2 separate regions of the Homo sapiens genome follow, and region 1 is linked to region 2. A link means that fine-mapping ties the variant in region 2 to the expression of a gene that starts in the linked region. Tissue or cell type: whole blood. Region 2 holds a variant in brackets; the other region holds the start of a gene. All regions are shown on one strand. Distances are between the middles of the regions.

Region 1 (8,185 bases), 130 kb after region 2:
AGAATTGAAAGTAGTGGTCATGGGATTAAACTTTCATCACAGTGATGATGTTTAAATAGAAATTATTTTTCTCCCACAAAATTAGCATGGGGCACTTAAAAAATAAATTATTGAGCCTAAATCTCATTTAACTCGTGAGAAGAAAAATTTACCACATAATTCCTGCACAATTAAAGGATCTTCTGACATAGTAATTTTTAACACAGAAGTGAAAGGTCAACTCCTTTGAGAAATTATGGTAGGGAGGGTAGACATGACAAAAACAACTCATACATATCTTGCATGAAGTCTGGGATTTTCATAGCTGAAACTCATCCACAGTTTGCAGATTAAAAATCTGTATTATTGGGGTTTTCTTTTCTTTTTTTTTTTTTTGAAGCAGAGTCTCACACTGTTGCCCAAGCTAGAGTGCACTGGCTATTCACAGGTGCAGTAATTGCACTCTATAGCCTCGAACTCCTGGGCTCAACAGATCCTCCCACCTCAGCCTCCCAAGTAGCTAAGACTACAGACACACACCCACAATTCACAAAAATCTGTATTCCTAAAGTCTCTGGCATCTTCCTGGTTTTCAAACCAATGATCTCCACAAAATTAAAAGATGGGGGTGACAAAATTCAGTCTGGAAAAACCTGAGCCTTAGCAAGCCATAAAAGGTTAAGTATTTTGTATTTTAAACATTTAATTTGGGGCAGGCACCACGGCTTAGGCCTGTAATCCCAGCACTTTGGGAGGGGAGGTGGGCAGATCACCGGAGCTCAGGAGTTCATGACCAGCCAGGGCAACATGGCAAAACCCCATCTCTACAAAACAAAAACAATTAGCCCGGCGTGGTGACCTGTCAACAGCGAGTACCTGTCTCAATTTTTCTGATTCAGGGTCGCACTGTTGCCCGGGCCAGAGTGTAGTGGTGCAGCTCACTGCAGCCTCCACCTTCCTGGGTCATGAGATCCTCCCACCTCAGCACCTGCCCCCTCCTTTACACCCCCTTCACCCATGTTGGGACTACAGGCACATGCCACCGTGACCAGCTAATTTGTGTTGTTGTTGTTGTTTTGTAGAGATGGGGGTTTCGCCATGCTGGCCAGGCTAGCATGGAACTCCTGAGCTCAAGTCATCTGCCCACCTCGGCCTCCCAAAGGGATGGGATTACAGGCATGACCCATCGAGCCCAGCCTATTTTAAATATTTTAAGGTGAAGTATCAAAATATCTTGTTGACAAACGTTCCTGATTATTCTTAGAGCTAAATTTTGATTCCTTACAAAGCAAATGGAATTGACAATTCAATGTTTCAAAGATACCTTTAAATTTAGCAGAGAAGTTGTGATGGATTAAACCCAAAGATAAACACCTTTAAAAGCCAAACTATGAGCGTCGAAAACATCCTTTTCTCCTAATCCTGCAACTAGAATTCCTTTTTAATTTTTGTAATTTGTAACACATAATTTAATGGAAAACAATCATTACTGAACTACTTCTCAGCATATACTTATTTGCAATAACAATGTTTACTACACATCAGCAAATATTACAACATTCACAGAAACTGCATTCAAAATAAAAAACAGTATTATGTATTGTTTTGTGTTTAAAAAAAAAAGTATTTTTCTGAATCTTCTTCAAATATATTTCCCTTCCTCAACTCCCTGACTCTGTACTGCTATTTTTAAGCTAACTCCACTTTGAAACACGGTGAAGTTAGAGCATATAAATAAATAAGGAAGTTACAAGACTTAAGTTCTTTGAAATCCATATGGGGAAATGGGAGAGTGCTACATACACTAAAATGGGACTAAGACAAACCTCAAGTTCCTGTAAAATGAGAAAACAGGTGAAACACCTATCTACACATGTAAATGTTAGGCCCCCTTATCCTTAATTAATATTAAAACGAAAAACTGGAATTAACATTTCTTCCCTACTGTGACCAACCATAGTGCACTAACCACTTGTTTACATCTAATATTTGGGAGCTACTGTTTAAAACGTCATGGATGGGCCAGGCGCAGTGGCTCACGCCTGTAATCCCAGCACTTTGGGAGGCCGAGCCGGGTGGATCACCTGAGGTCAGGAGTTCGAGACCAGCCTGGCCAACGTGATGAAACCCCATCTCTACTAAAAATACAAAAAACTAGCTGGGCATGGCGGTGGGTGCCTGTAATCCCAGCTACTCCGGAGGCTGAAGCAGGAGAATTGCTTGAACCCAGGAGGTGGAGGTTGCATTGAGCCAAGATCTCGCCATTGCACTCCAGCCTGGGCAACAAGAGCAAAACTCCGTCTCCAAAAAAAAAAAAAAAAAAAAAGTCTTGGATGGCCCTTTGAGGGGGAGGACCACATTATTAGGAACCCCCCCAAAGACAGACACCCAACAAAGTGTGTGTGGGGAAGAGGGTGGCGGCGGGAATTAAATCCAATGAGGGCAAAAAACAAAACAAAACGAAATCCCCCAGGCGTGGTGGCTCACATCTGTCATCCCAGCACTTGGGATGCCAAGGTGAAAGGACCGCTTGGGCCCAGGAGTTCAAGAACAGCCTGGGCAACATAACAAGACCTCCTCTCTATAAAAAATAAAAATGACGGGCATGGTGACACTGGCCTGTAATCTCACCTACTTGGGGGGCTGAGGTGAGAGGAGGACCCCTTGGGCCCGGGAGGCAAAGGATGCAGTGAGCCAAGATCACACCACTGCACTCCAGCCTGGGTGACAGAATGACACTCCTCAAAAAAAGAAAGATAGCTATGAAAAAAAATGAAACACCAGGCGCAGTGGCACACGCCCATAATCTCAGCACTTTGGGAGGCCAAGGCGGGTGGATCACTTGAGGTCAGGAGTTTGAGAACAGCCTGGCCAACATGGTGAAACCCCATCTCTACTAAAAATACAAAAATTAGCGGGGCGTGGTGATGTGCGCCTGTAATCCCAGCTACTCGGGACACTGAGGCAGAAGAATCGCTTGAAACCGGGAGGTGGAGGCTACAGTGAGCTGAGATGGTGACACTCCAGCCTGGGTAACAAGAGCGAAACTCTGTCTCAAAAAAAAAAAAAAAAGAAGATTCCCAAGTCTATTGCTCTAATTTATCAATGTTAAAAATAAAAAATGTAGTATTAAAAAAGAAAATGCTTTCCAAAAAAAGTTATGTATCACTGCTATTGAAAATAGCCCAAATATTATCTACCGTTTAGCCTCTTAGCTAAGATTCCCAAATACTGTTTTTCTTTTTAAAGAAATTAAAACAAGATAAAACTATGCAACGGCATTTAAAAGTACTGTCCTATTTGGGCCGTCACAGCAAAAAGCCTCGTATTTTAAGAGGTAAATATTAAAGATACTCTTTAACAATCATAGTATCGAATAAAGTATTGGCACTTTAAGAGTTCATAAAATTTATGCTAATTTAGTTACCAGCATAATTACACTTTTTCTTTTTCTTTTTTTTTTTTTTGTAGACAGAGTCTCACTCTGTCACTGGGCTGGATTGCAGTGGCGCAGATCTCGGCTCACTGCAACCTCCGCTTCCCAGGTTCAAGCGATTCTCCTGCCTCAGCCTCCTAAGTAGCTGGGATTACAGGTGCCTGCCACTACGCCCAGCTAATTTTTTGTATTTTTAGTAGAGACAGGGTTTCACCACGTTGGCCAGGCTGGTCTTGAACTCCTGACCTCGTGATTGGCCCGCCTCGGCCTCCCAAAGTGCTGGGATTACAGGCCTGAGCCACTGTTCCCGGCCATAATTACACTTTCCAAGGCGTACGGGTAGGGATACTAATGCTGACTGTGCAGATGTGTACTTGCTATGTTTGATGTTTACATTAAGGCCTATTGAAGTCGGAGTTTAAAAAGAAATTGAATACATCAAAACCTGTCTTCTTCCAGACTAGTAAATTCAACTACACAGTGAAAATGGAATCTGCTTTTTAAAATCTTGTTTGACACGTGAATGAACCAGCGAGAAATGTTTCCCCCATAATCTTCCATCTCTCGATGCACAGATCTCTCCCTACCATTTGTCTTTATGTCGTGATGGATTAGAAGAGGAGCGAGTAAAAATAAAAGATATTGCAGAATAACCTTTGCCTGCCTACCAACCATCCAATTAGCTCAAGTCCCTAGCTGGCAAATTACCTAGTCAACAATGCCTCAATTATAAACACTACGTGTAACGTGACCACAGATCAACACCCCGTAGGTTCATTTCCCCCACCGCCCCCAATCGGTGTTAGCCTCAGTGAGGACCCGGGAAGGTCTGGAGAGTCATGTCCAGCGTCCACTTAAATCCTCAAAGGCCCAGGAAGGAGGTGGGCGGGCCAGGCCTCGGCGGAACTGACCTCGAGGGACCTGTCGGGAGTCTCCGGGTGAGGGCCCAACCGGGTCTTTCCCTCCGAGCTCGCAGCCATTCCATAGGACGCCGGAGACGCCAGAACCTCCCTCCGCCCCAGGGCGGCCCTCCCCCAACCCTCCTCCCGGACCCGGGGGAGGGGCACCCAGAGGAGAAACACCCCTCCCCCACGGGCACTGCTAGGCCACCGCTCACCCCACCCTTAAAAAACCCGCAGGCCCGCGCCCACCCTCCGGGCCCCGGCCTCGACCAGGGGTGGGGGCGGTGCGGGCAGGAGCAGGGGAACCCGGCTGCCATACCAACCTCGCTATTGAAGGTCTTCACGGCCTCCATGTTGTCGCTGCGGAGGCCCCGAGCCCGGCGGCGGAAGAGGCGGCGGCCACTGCACTGGGTGGGGAGAGCGAGACGCGGGCTGCTGCGTGGCCGCGAGGAGGGGGCGCTGGCGGGAGAGCGGGCCGCTGCGACCTCGGGGCGGAGTGGAAGGGCACGCGCTGGCGGGGAAGGGCTCCCTCAGCGGCAGAGCGGCACCGGCATGGCCGCTAGGGCGGGGGGAGCGCCGTTCTAGGGAACAGAGGCGCTGCCGGGGCGGGTCGGCGGCGGGCGGGGGAGGGGCTGGGCCGCGGCGCCTTCTCTTCTCTGCCCCGCTCCGTTTCGGTCCCCCTCCCTCTAGCCCCTTCCCCTACACTCTCCACTCCCTTCTGCCCCTTCCTCCGACGGGCTCCTGTTTCACCTCCCCGCCGCTCGGGCCGCAGGAACCAGCCCCGCTCGGCGAAGACAGAGGAGGAAGCGCTGGCAGCAGCGGCTGCGGCATCCAATATGGCGGACTCGAGTCGGGCCGCGCAGTTCGGGGATCCGCGGCGCCGGCTAGCGCGCCCCCTGGCGACTGGACCGTGCGAGCCCCGGCGGCCGCGCGGAAACCATCGAGCGCGCTGGGGCCAGAGCGTCGCCGCCCGTAGGCCCGGCTGGGCTCCGCTGCCCTCGCCTTGGCTCCGGGGCCGCCCGCGCCTCGCCCCCTCCCCGCGCCCCGCGGACGCGGGAGTGAGCGCTGCGGCATCCGGGGGAACGCCGCGGCGGGTTTGTACAGCAGGAGGAGGCAACTCCAAAGCGCGGCTCTAATAAGAGCCTAAACGTGCCCAAGAAGCGGCAAGTTGAGGAAATGTGCGCGTTTCCCTTGTTTCCCGGTGGATTGGTCCTTTTGCACAAGCGGCAGGGTTTAGTTGCTTTTCACAACTTTACTGGACAGTGCCCTAAACATCCGCAGCCTTCGCCAAGAAAAAGTTCCTGGTCATCTATTTAGTAACTGAACTCAATTGTTTTAACTGCACAGGGAGGGAACATTAGAAACCAAAGCCTTGGATTCGGGTTGGGGCAGGCGGCGAGGGAAACAGGCATGCAGCAGCTCCTTGCAGGAAATGCCCGCTGCATAGGATCCAGGGACTGGAGTGGCACAATGAGCGCATTTGTCTGCAAGGCGGGAAGGGGACCCTAGAATGCACAACACTTGAATAGGTGAAAAGGGAACCCGTCTGTTTCGGAAGATGAATTGTTCTAAAGGAATTTTGCCCTAGGATACTTGGAGTAAAGGTAAATACAGTATTTCTTAGATGGATTAGGAGATGCTGCTAGTAAAAAGCCTTCTCTCTCGTGCAGCGCAAAATAAGGTACCAATTTAAAAATACTTATCGATGTTAAAAGATAGGGATGTATCGTGGAACCCCGAACACTGCTGTCCTCTTGTTGAAAGTCATTTTTCAACAATCATTCCCAAATTCACTCAAAGGGAGAGAGGAACATAAGGGCAGGATCGTACTTTTGGAGAGTTTTGGAATCAAGGTAGTTCCTAAGAGCTGTGCGCAGAGCCCCGTGAAACTGGGAAAGTAAGGCCCTTCTTGAGGTTTCAGAGCCTTCATTCTACTTCATTGGCAGCTTTAGTATAGGGCCTGGCTACTGAGAAGGTAACAGGGATAACTCACCAAGTGCTTTTATATTTACTTTCAAAATCTCAAATTCTGTCACAGATTTCTCCACCGTCTCCCATCTTCAGGCCTAGCCATGATCTTTTACTGACACTTGCAGTAGCCTCCTAACTGGTCCCTTGCTTGTCTTCCTACAGTTCATTTCCAGACAGTAGCCGAGGGATGTTTTTCTTAGATAAATCAGATCAGGTCACTCCCTTACTTAAATCCCTTAAATACTTTCTCATTGCCCATTTGATACCATCATAACTTCTCACCATGGCCTGAAGGCCCAGCCCAGCCTGCCGCAGCTCACACCACCTTCCCTTGCTCCCTGACTCTCCTCCTGCCACACTGGCCTTTCTGTTACTTGACAAGAAGCAGTGTTTTCATAGGTAGGACAATTGTGTCTCTTCACACAGGGTGCTGTTGCTCTTGTCCTTTCCATAGCTGACTCCTCCTCCTTCAATCTTCCTGAAAGAGGTCCCCTAATCACTCCATCTAAAGGAGCATTTACTGTGGCTTGAGAAAGTACTGCACTCAGTTCTGTGCATGCCAGGTTCTCACAATCAGAAGTCACTGCTTTGAGGCCGGGTGTGGTGGCTCTCGCCTGTAATCCGAGCACTTTGGGAGACCGAGGCGGGTGGATCACCTGAGGTTAGGAGTTCGAGACCAGCCTGGCCAACATGGTGAAATCCCGTCTGTACTAAAAATACAAAAAAAGTAGCCAGGCGTGGTGGCACGCCCTTGTAGTCCCAGCTACTCGGGAGGCCGAGGCAGGAGATTCGCTTGAACCCGGGAGGCGGAGGTTGCAGCGTGCCGAGATCGCGTGACTGCACTCCAGCCGGGGCAACAAGAGTGAAGCTCTGTCTCAAAAAGAGAAACAAAAAAGAAAAGAACGGAAAAAAAAGGCGCTGCTTTGGCCTGTGAGGGATTATTTATTAGGTCATACATGAAATGAGTGTTGATGGAATTACTTAGGCCTGAGAAATTAAAATGCAATACAAGCTAAAGGATAAAATCAGTGGTTAACATGCTTCACAATTTGATTTAATAAAGCTTCCGCATTCAGAATGGTAACAGAGGGCATAGTTTGATCAGGGTAAGCAGAGGGGGAAGATACAGAGAGCAGCCTAAACACAATCTTTTTTTTTGCGGGGTGTTGGGGCGGGGCTGGACGGAGTCTCGCTCTGTAGCCAGGCTGGAGTGCAGTGGCACGATCTCGGCTCACTGCAACCTCCACCTTCTGGGTTCAAGCGATTCTCGTGCCTCAGCCTCCTGAGTAGCGGGGATTACAGGCACGTGCCACCACACCCAGCTAATTTTTGTATTTTTAGTAGAGATGGGGTTTCACCATGTTGGCCAGGATGGTCTTGATCTCCTGACCTTGTGATCCGCTTGCCTTGGCCTCCCAAAGTGCTGGGATTATAGCCGCGCCCGGCTTTTATTTTTTATTTATTTATTTTTTGAGACTGAGTTTTGCTCTTGTCGCCCAGGCTGGAGTGCAATGACGCGATCTCGGCTCACCGCAACCTCCGCCTTCCGGGTTCAAGCGATTCTCCTGCCTTAACCTCCCAAGTAGCTAGGACTACAGGCAACCGACGCCACGTTCGGCTAATTTTTGTATTTTTAGTAGAGACGGGGTTTCACCATGTTGGCCAGGCTGATCTCAAACTCCTGACCTCCAGTGATTCACCCTCCTCGGCCTCCCAAAGTGCTGGGATTACAGGCATGAGCCACCTCGCCCAGCCTAAACACAATCTTAATATAAGAAGGCGATAAAGCAAGAGAAGGGTTAGAGGGGAGCCTGGGGTTCCAGTGCAATGACTATATACAAAATTTATACACAACTACATACAGAGTGTGAAAACAGTACCCGTGTGTGTGTGTCTG
Region 2 (8,185 bases):
CATGTGGAACAGGTCTGGGCAGAAGGAAGGGGATGTTCGCGTAAAATAAAAAAGGTAAGGTAAAATCATTCTTTCTCCCTTTGACCTTGCATATGATCCTTTCTGATCAAGGCTGGGGAGGTGATAAAGGCTCTGGTGGTTAAGGAGATGATGTTCCAAAATGCAGAAAGGGGTACTGGGACCCAAAATAGAGGGGGAATTGAAAGACAATTTCTGGCTTTCTCAGCCTTTTTCCTGAGACCACTCCTGTTTCACATGACTCTGCTAGTTAAGGAGGTAAGAATGTATCTGTAATCTGAACCAGGGCACCTGCTGCTGATAGACTCCTACTGCCTACAAGAGAAACTGCAAGCTCTTAGCTGGGCAGTGAGGGCCCCTCACAACCGGAGGGGCCAAGCAGAGCTACTCCCTGCCCTCCATTCACTCCATACCCTTTCATGCCTTCCAGTAACCCCTGCAAATGCACTTCACTTCCAGCAAGCTGCAGGACGCCCGTCAAGTGCCAATTTCTCTAATCGCCTTCCCTACTCCACCCCTTTCCACGGTTCATGGATGCATTTCCACAGCACGCTGCCACATCTCTGCCATGGCGCCAATCACTCTGTCCAGTAATTACCTTCCTGACTGCATTGTGGATTCCTCAAGGGCAGAGACCTTGCTTTCTTTTAGCGTGTGCCTGGTGCCTATGTGTTTGCTGAATAAATGAATGCATTCAGTGTAGGGATGATACATTCATTCAAGTCTTAATCAGGTTAAAAGTTTAGAATTTTAAAATGATACAGAGTATTTTCCAAGCTTAGAGCTTCCATATACCCAGAAGAAATGCCAGTCATCCCCAAGCATAAATTTAAGAAATTAATTTTTGCCTTCAAATACTTCTATTAATATGCAATAAAATTACTGTATTATTTAAGCATTTTAAAGAAGGAAAATATTGAGTAAAAATATTCCAGCCGGGCATAGTGGCTCAAACCTGTAATCCCACCATTTTGGGAGGACGAAGCAGGTGGATCACTTGAGGTCAGGAGTTCGAGACCAGCCTGGCCAACATGGCAAAACCCCAACTCTACTAAAAATACAAAAACTAGCCAGGAGTGGTGGTGCATGCCTGTAATCCCAGCTACTCGGGAGGCAGAGGCAGGAGAATCACTTGAACCCGGGAGGTGGAGGTTGCAGTGAGCCAAGATCATGCCACTGCACTCCTCCCTGGGCGACAGAGAAAGACCCTGTCTAAAACAATAACAACAATAAAAAACCTTAATATTCCAAAAGTTACAAGAGTTTATCATAGTGGAAAAAAGTTACTGAAAAGTGACCTAAATAGTGTTCTATTTCCTGAGCCTCCATAAACAAATTATTTGCAAAATATATCTCAATACAATGTCACTCTGTTAACTAAAATAAGTTCTCTCCAATAGTCTTAGTTATTAAACTTATAAAATACCTGGAAAGCAGTGAAAAGTAATTATTCTTTTTTTTGTGGGGGATGGAGTCTCACTCTGTAGCCCAGGCTGGAGTGCAGTGGCACGATCTCGGCTCACTGTAACCTCCGCTACCCGGGTTCAAGCGATTCTCTTGCCTCAGCGTCCAGAGTACCTGGGATTACAGGCGCGTGCCACCACGCCTGGCTAATTTTTTGTATTTTTAGTAGAGACGGGGGTTTCACCGTGTTGGTCAGGCTGGTTTCAAACTCCAGAGCTCAGGCAATCTACCCACCTCGGCCTCCCAAAGTGCTGGGATTACAGGTGTGAGCCACCTGCCCAGCCGATTTTTTTTTATCTTGTAAAAAAACCAACCTGTAACTTAGATTTATAAAACAGGTGGTGATGCCATATATTCCAGGAGAAGTTCCTTCTGTCTCCTAGCCATTAGACCACCTGGATTATTGGACATAATTCAGCATTCTGGACTCACTACACATAACAGACCCTAATATAGCTGGGGGAAACATACAAAAAAGAGGCCTACTTCTGTCTTTGATAGCTGATTTATAGAAGTTAAAATACAATCATGTTTAAGAAATAGCTGGTATCATATTGTACTACGGAATGTTTTATTCCAGGCTGTTTCACCTTTGTGTGTGTGTGTTTTGGGGTGGGGGGGAGGTGGTGAGAGGGAGTATTCACACATGTGACTCATTTAAAAATCTGAGCACAGGCCGGGTGTGGTGGCTCATGCCTGTAATCCCAGTACTTTGAGAGGCCGAGGCAGGTGGATCACCTGAGGTTAGGAGTTTGAGACCAGCCTGGCCAACATGACAAAACCCCATCTCTACTAAAAATACAAAAATTAGCCGGGCATGGTGGCACATGCCTGAATCCCAGCTACTCGGGAGGCTGAGACAGAATTGTTTGAAGCCAGGAGGCGGAGGCTGCAGTAAGCCGAGATCGCGCCACTGCACTCCAGCTGGGCAACAGAGCAAGACTCCATCTTTAAAAAAATAAAAAAATCTGAGCACGGATTTTTGGGTATTATGGTAATACGGCATATAATTTCAAGGAATACCATGGTCAACCTTATTAACACCCTTGGCCTAAGAAATATATGGCTCTTAAGTTAATCAGAAAGTTGGTGTAGTTCATGGCCTTCCATCTAGTCTAGGGAAACCTGACCATCCCTAAAGAAAGGCCAGATGTTTATGAGACATCACATTTGGGTAATTTTTCTGCCAGTTCACCTACCTATAATAGATGATAGCAAGTTGGAACCAAAATGTCTCACTACAGTTGGTTTATCCCACCTACATAGAGGCAGTGACTATGTAGATAATTGCTTAGGGATACGGGGTTTAAAAGTATATAGTGAACATAAAAATTTTAGCTAGTATCAGTCTCACCTTTCAAGACCAAATTTATACCTACAAAAATGTGTCTATATATTTCTGTGCCAGATATTGGTTTCCCTCACTACGAATTGGTATGTGGGTAATAAACTTTGATTACATAGAATTTGAAAGTTAAGCCAGGCATGGTGGCTCACGCCTGTAATCCTAGCACTCTGGGAGGCAGGGGCGGGCGGACTGTCTGAGCTCAGGAGTTCGAGACCAGCCTGGGCAACATGGCGAAGCCCTGTCTCTACTAAAAAAATACAAAAAAATTAGCCAGGCACGGTGGCGCACGGCTGTAGTCCCAGCTACTCAGGAGGATGAGGCACAATAATCGCTTGAACCTGGGAGGCGGAGGTTGTAAGCTGGAGCGCACTGCACTCCAGCTTGGGTGACAGAGCAAGACTCTGTCCCCCCACCACCCCCACCAAAAAAAAAAAAAAAAAGAAAGTTAATAAAGTTAATAGAGAGTCCAAATACGAATAATCAAATTACTGCTTTAAAATTTTTAATGGGTCTGTTGAAGACAAATGCACAAATGCCTTATAAATGACCTAACAGATTTCTAATGTGAAAAAATACTATAAAAATTGGAATGCTATAGAGAAATACTGAAAAAAATACTGTATTTTGTGACTTTCACTGAAACTAGGACATTTAATTGCAAAAAAAGCATCAATATGAGTCACTAAAAACAGCAACTAAAAATGTGATTATGTACTCCACAGAAAAAATTCCAGATTTAAAAAAAAAA[C/AC]TCATTGTACAAGAATGAGCACAGGAAGAGCTTTAAATAAAAAAAAGTAGAGAAAATTTAAATCATTAAAGATTCTATACACATCTGGTTCCTTGACATAGATGTTATTCATTAAGAGTTAGTGAAAACACAGAATATACTCTGTTTTGATCCTCAGAGAGCAGTCAATAGAGTGAGGTTTAAGAATTCAGCTACCATATCCCAGCATGAGTTCTATTTAGGAAAAAAATGGGTATGCAATTATAGCAGATTGAGTATTTACTACATTCTATGTACTATTCTAAGTACTTTACCTATATAACTCAATGACTGCATACCACAATGCTATGAGGCAGGTACTAGTATCAAGCCCATTTTACAGATGTCGAAACAGGTGCAGAAAGGATAACTATAAGATAACCTCATGACTACTAAGTGGCAGAGTCATAACTCAAATCCAGGCACTCTCTCCAGGACCCATGTTGCTAACCACTGCAATGTGCCCTCTGCACTGAAGATGAGAGTGTTAGAGCTGAAGGGAACCATGAAAGCACCTACATTGTATTCTCCTTCTGTAAACTGAGGCCCAATCACATTGGTCTATGATTCCCCGCTGCTTGCTCCATTCACGACATTCCTTTATCACCTTTTACAGCCACCTTCACAGGAACTTGGGTCATTGCACAAGGCTGATTGGAGATTTACACATTTGTTTTGACTATCTGGTAAGGGCACCATTGCAGTTTTATAACAAACCAGCATTTTGTTCAGTTCTCACATACTCCTCTGTTATCAGAAACCTCTGTGGCGATAATCATATAAAACAATATTCTACGAATATTTTGTTGGACACTCAGAGAATCAAACACTATGTAGCATGGACACTATAATACTGTAAACGTCTAAACAGTTTTAATAAGTAAAATCTCATTCTTAAATGGACGACAGTACTGAAAAGAATACCTTTGAAACAATTTTGGATTTGCAAATTAAATGTTAAGAATAGATGAAAAAGTCTCCAACCCCATCTCAGATGCTGAATCTGATGAATGTTAAAGTTCTTTCAAACTCTGAAACTGAGAGTTTGAATGGCTGCTTCTGTGAAATCATAGTTTCTGGTGCTTTGGCTGATTCACCTAAGTATACTATGAGACAGTGTGCCGGGGCTCTACTTAACCTCATCAGAATACGCTTCCATTATGTGGACAGACAGTAACAGGTGACTCTCAGGTGATAGATAACAGGCAAGTGATTTTGTTAAGAGGTGAGGTGGGAGTGGGGTGGGAATTTGGTTACGTTCCCAGAAATATCAATGATTGTTATTAGTTATAACATTCTAGGATAACTAGCTCATGTTATTAGTTATAACATTCTAGGATAACTAGCTCATCCCTAGAAGCAAGCACTGGGTTTCCTTTTATAGGTGCACAGTGACCTCTACTGGTACAAGTATAGAATCCCGAAGTGCAATTTGCTCCGTAAGTGATTTTCGGAGGCACAACTAAGAATATTTATTCTTTGAAAAGGACACCAAAAAGAAAAGATACAATTTTAAAAATACTTACTTTTTGAAACCTTTTATAATTTTCAATTAATGAGATCTCCTCCTCTACCAGAATTAGACATTTCAATTAAAGTTGTCCATACACATAATATCACAGAATGCAAAGAACTAAACAGTACTTTAATTTAAAAATCCTGCTGCTAAGTGTTATGGTGTCAAAAGTGCTATAAAATATAATTATTTTGGAATAACTCCAATTTACCCAAAAAGTACCAAAGACACCAATTATAGAAGAATTATAGCGTATATTTAAAATTTGCAAAATGCTTTGAAACTTTGCATTGTTGAATGCTAAGTAGCTCACCTTCCCACAGATATTTTGCTTCCTTGATTTTAAAACAATTAAAGTATTGGTTTTCTCTCTTAAATCCCAAAGGCTATCAGAAATAAACTGTAGGTAGGTTTATTACATTTAAAGAAACTTCCAATAGGCAAGTTTTACCTGCATGTGAAACAATGCCAAGTGAGATGCTGACGTCAAAGACAGCCTCCATATATGTCATTATTTGTCATGCACATCAAAATACTGTACAAGAGTTCAAAGGAAAATCAGTTTTTAAAAACCCATGGCAATATTTTTAATTATTGTAGGCTGAAATTATTTCCTTCAAACTGTATTTCCGTAACTTTCCACTGCAGAAAATGAAGTAGAAAAGAATTTAAAATGATACTTTTCAGTGATGAACACTCAAACCAAATTTCATTCCAAGAGCGGGAGAATACAGCATCCTTAATCTTGCCCATTTTGTTTGTTTTAACAAAGTATAATAAAAATAGCTGTGAACTAGTGAGTTAGCCAGTTTTTGCCCAGAATACATGTAACAGAGTTCCTTTTCAAGAAATTATTCATTGCTTAGTAAGAGTAATGAATTGGGAAAAATGAAGACATTTTTATTTAACTTTGATAACTAGGACTTGCATATGTGTATGGCACATCTCACTATTTCTGTTTATTAATTAATCAGCCCATATTTGCTGTACTACATGCAAGGCACTGCTGGGGATACAAGGGTGACAAGGCATAGTCCTTGCTCCTAAGGAACCAGCACTTAGGGAAAATATGACTGCTATACAAGTAACTATAAGAACATATTTTATTTCATTATTTTATTTTGAGATGGAGTCTTGCTCTGGCACCCAGGCAGGAGGGCAGTGGCGCGATCTCGGCTCACCGCAACCTCTGCCTCCCAGGTTCAAGCGATTCTCGTACCTCAGCCTCCCGGGTAGCTGGGATTACAGGCGTGCACCATCATGCCCAGCTAATTTTTGTATTTTTAGTAGAGACAGGGTTTCGCCACGTTGGCCAGGCTGGTCTCGAACTCCTGACCTCAGGTGATCTGCCCACCTTGGCCTCCCAAAGTGCTGGGATTACAGGCATAAGCCACCGCGCCCAGCCTATAAGGACATATTTTAAATAATTCGCCCTTAAAAGATGGAGTTTTTACTAAAAAATGATCTAAACTTTTCATACAACTCCCTACTGCCTCCCTCCCCTACCCCTGCCCCACATAATAATATCTGTAGCCACCTTGTGGGGCCCTGCTTCTGCAGACCTGTAAATGTCTTCTCTTTCCTTTCATATTTTGGGCATCAGATGGGGAAAATTATGCTTCTGGCTCAAGGAATATCCGTATTAACCACTGTTAAAGCAATTGCTGGGCCAGGCATAGTGGCTCATGTCTGTAATCTCAGCAATTTGGGAGGCCAAGGTGGGAGGATCGCCTGGGCCCAGGAGTTTGAGACCAGCCCAGGCAATATAGCAGGACCTCCCCTCTACAAATAATTTTTAAAATCAGCTGGGTATGGTGGTTCCTTTCTGTGGTCCCAGCTACTCAGGAGGCTGAGGCAAGAGAATTGCGTGAGCTCAGGCAGTCAAAGCTGCAGTGAGCTGAGATCATGCCACTGCACTCCAGACCCTGTCTCAACCCCCTACCCCGGCCCCGCCAAAAAAAACAACCCACAATTGCCACCACACAACTCCTACTCAAATAATCATATCAGTAAAATATGTCCTAGGATCACATAGTGAATAGACACATACTAACAGCTTTCAGTAGTGAAAGGTGAAGAGAAAGAGTGAAGCCTCATGGTGAATCCATCAGGGCCTGGCCTCTGTTTTGTACTCTCTACTCTCAGCCTACAGGATAATGCTTTACTCACATAAGGATAACACAGGACACTACAAAAGCAATTTTCTAAAAGTTAACTCTAATTCCCTGAAAACATTCATGGGTTTTAAAATTATAAACATTAAATCACAGCCGGGCATGGTGGCTCACACCTGTAATCCCAGCACTTTGGGAGGCCGAGGTGGGTGGATCACTTGAGGTCAGGAGTTCGAGACCAGCCTGGCCAACATGGCAAAACCCCCTCTCTACTAAAAACACAAAATTAGCCAGGTGTGATGGTGGGCACCTGTAATCCCAGCTACCTGAGAAGCTGAGGCAGGAGAATTGCTTGAACCCAGGAGACAGAGGTTGCAGTGAGCCAAGATTACGCCACTGCAATCCAGCCTGGTTGACAAGAGTAAAACTCTATCTCAAAACAAAACAAAACATTACATCAAGAAATTCCATGTGACTACTGAATCCCTGAGAGTGCTCTAAAATAACATGTCTAAGAAAAGAAAAACATCCTTCCAAACTCTGTCAAGACTGGGTAGAACAGAGAGAACAGGAAACAGCTGAAATGCTCCTCAGTAGAGGACTGGAGCACCATGGGAAACTGCAGATACTGGGTACAACAGAAAAACAGGAAACGTGTTTCTCAGGAGAAAATTGGTTAACTAGGGCCAGGCACGGTGGCTCACACCTGTAATCCCAGTACTTTGGGAGGCCGAGGTGGGCGGATGACCTGAGGTCAGGAGTTCGAGACCAGCATGGCCAACATGGTGAAACCCCATCTCTACTAAAAAAAAAAAAAAAAATACAAAAATTAGCCGGGCATGGTGTCAGGCGCCTGTAATCCCAGCTACTCGGGAGGTTGACGCAGAAGAATCGCATGAACCTGGGAGGCAGAGGTTGCAGTGAGCCGAGATCACGCCATTGCACTCTAGCCTGGGAGA

Evidence for each region. PIP is the estimated chance that this variant, and not a neighbour inherited with it, causes the effect.
Region 1: it holds the start of SCAF8, and the variant in region 2 is fine-mapped to the expression of SCAF8 in whole blood (TOPMed, PIP 0.93).

What each region holds. Positions count from the first base shown.
Region 1 is chr6:154,730,386-154,738,570 of GRCh38, reverse strand. It overlaps SCAF8 (SR-related CTD associated factor 8), which reads right to left and starts at 5,155. Exons shown (of 20, transcript NM_014892.5): 1 at 4,641-5,155. The coding sequence starts at 4,670. RefSeq lists silencers at 4,383-4,982, 5,133-5,252, 5,283-5,522 and an enhancer at 4,619-5,122.
Region 2 is chr6:154,865,065-154,873,249 of GRCh38, reverse strand. No RefSeq gene overlaps it. Among named protein-coding and RNA genes, the nearest start is that of MIR1273C, 16 kb to the right of the region's middle. The variant C/AC (reference allele first, on the strand shown) is at 3,579.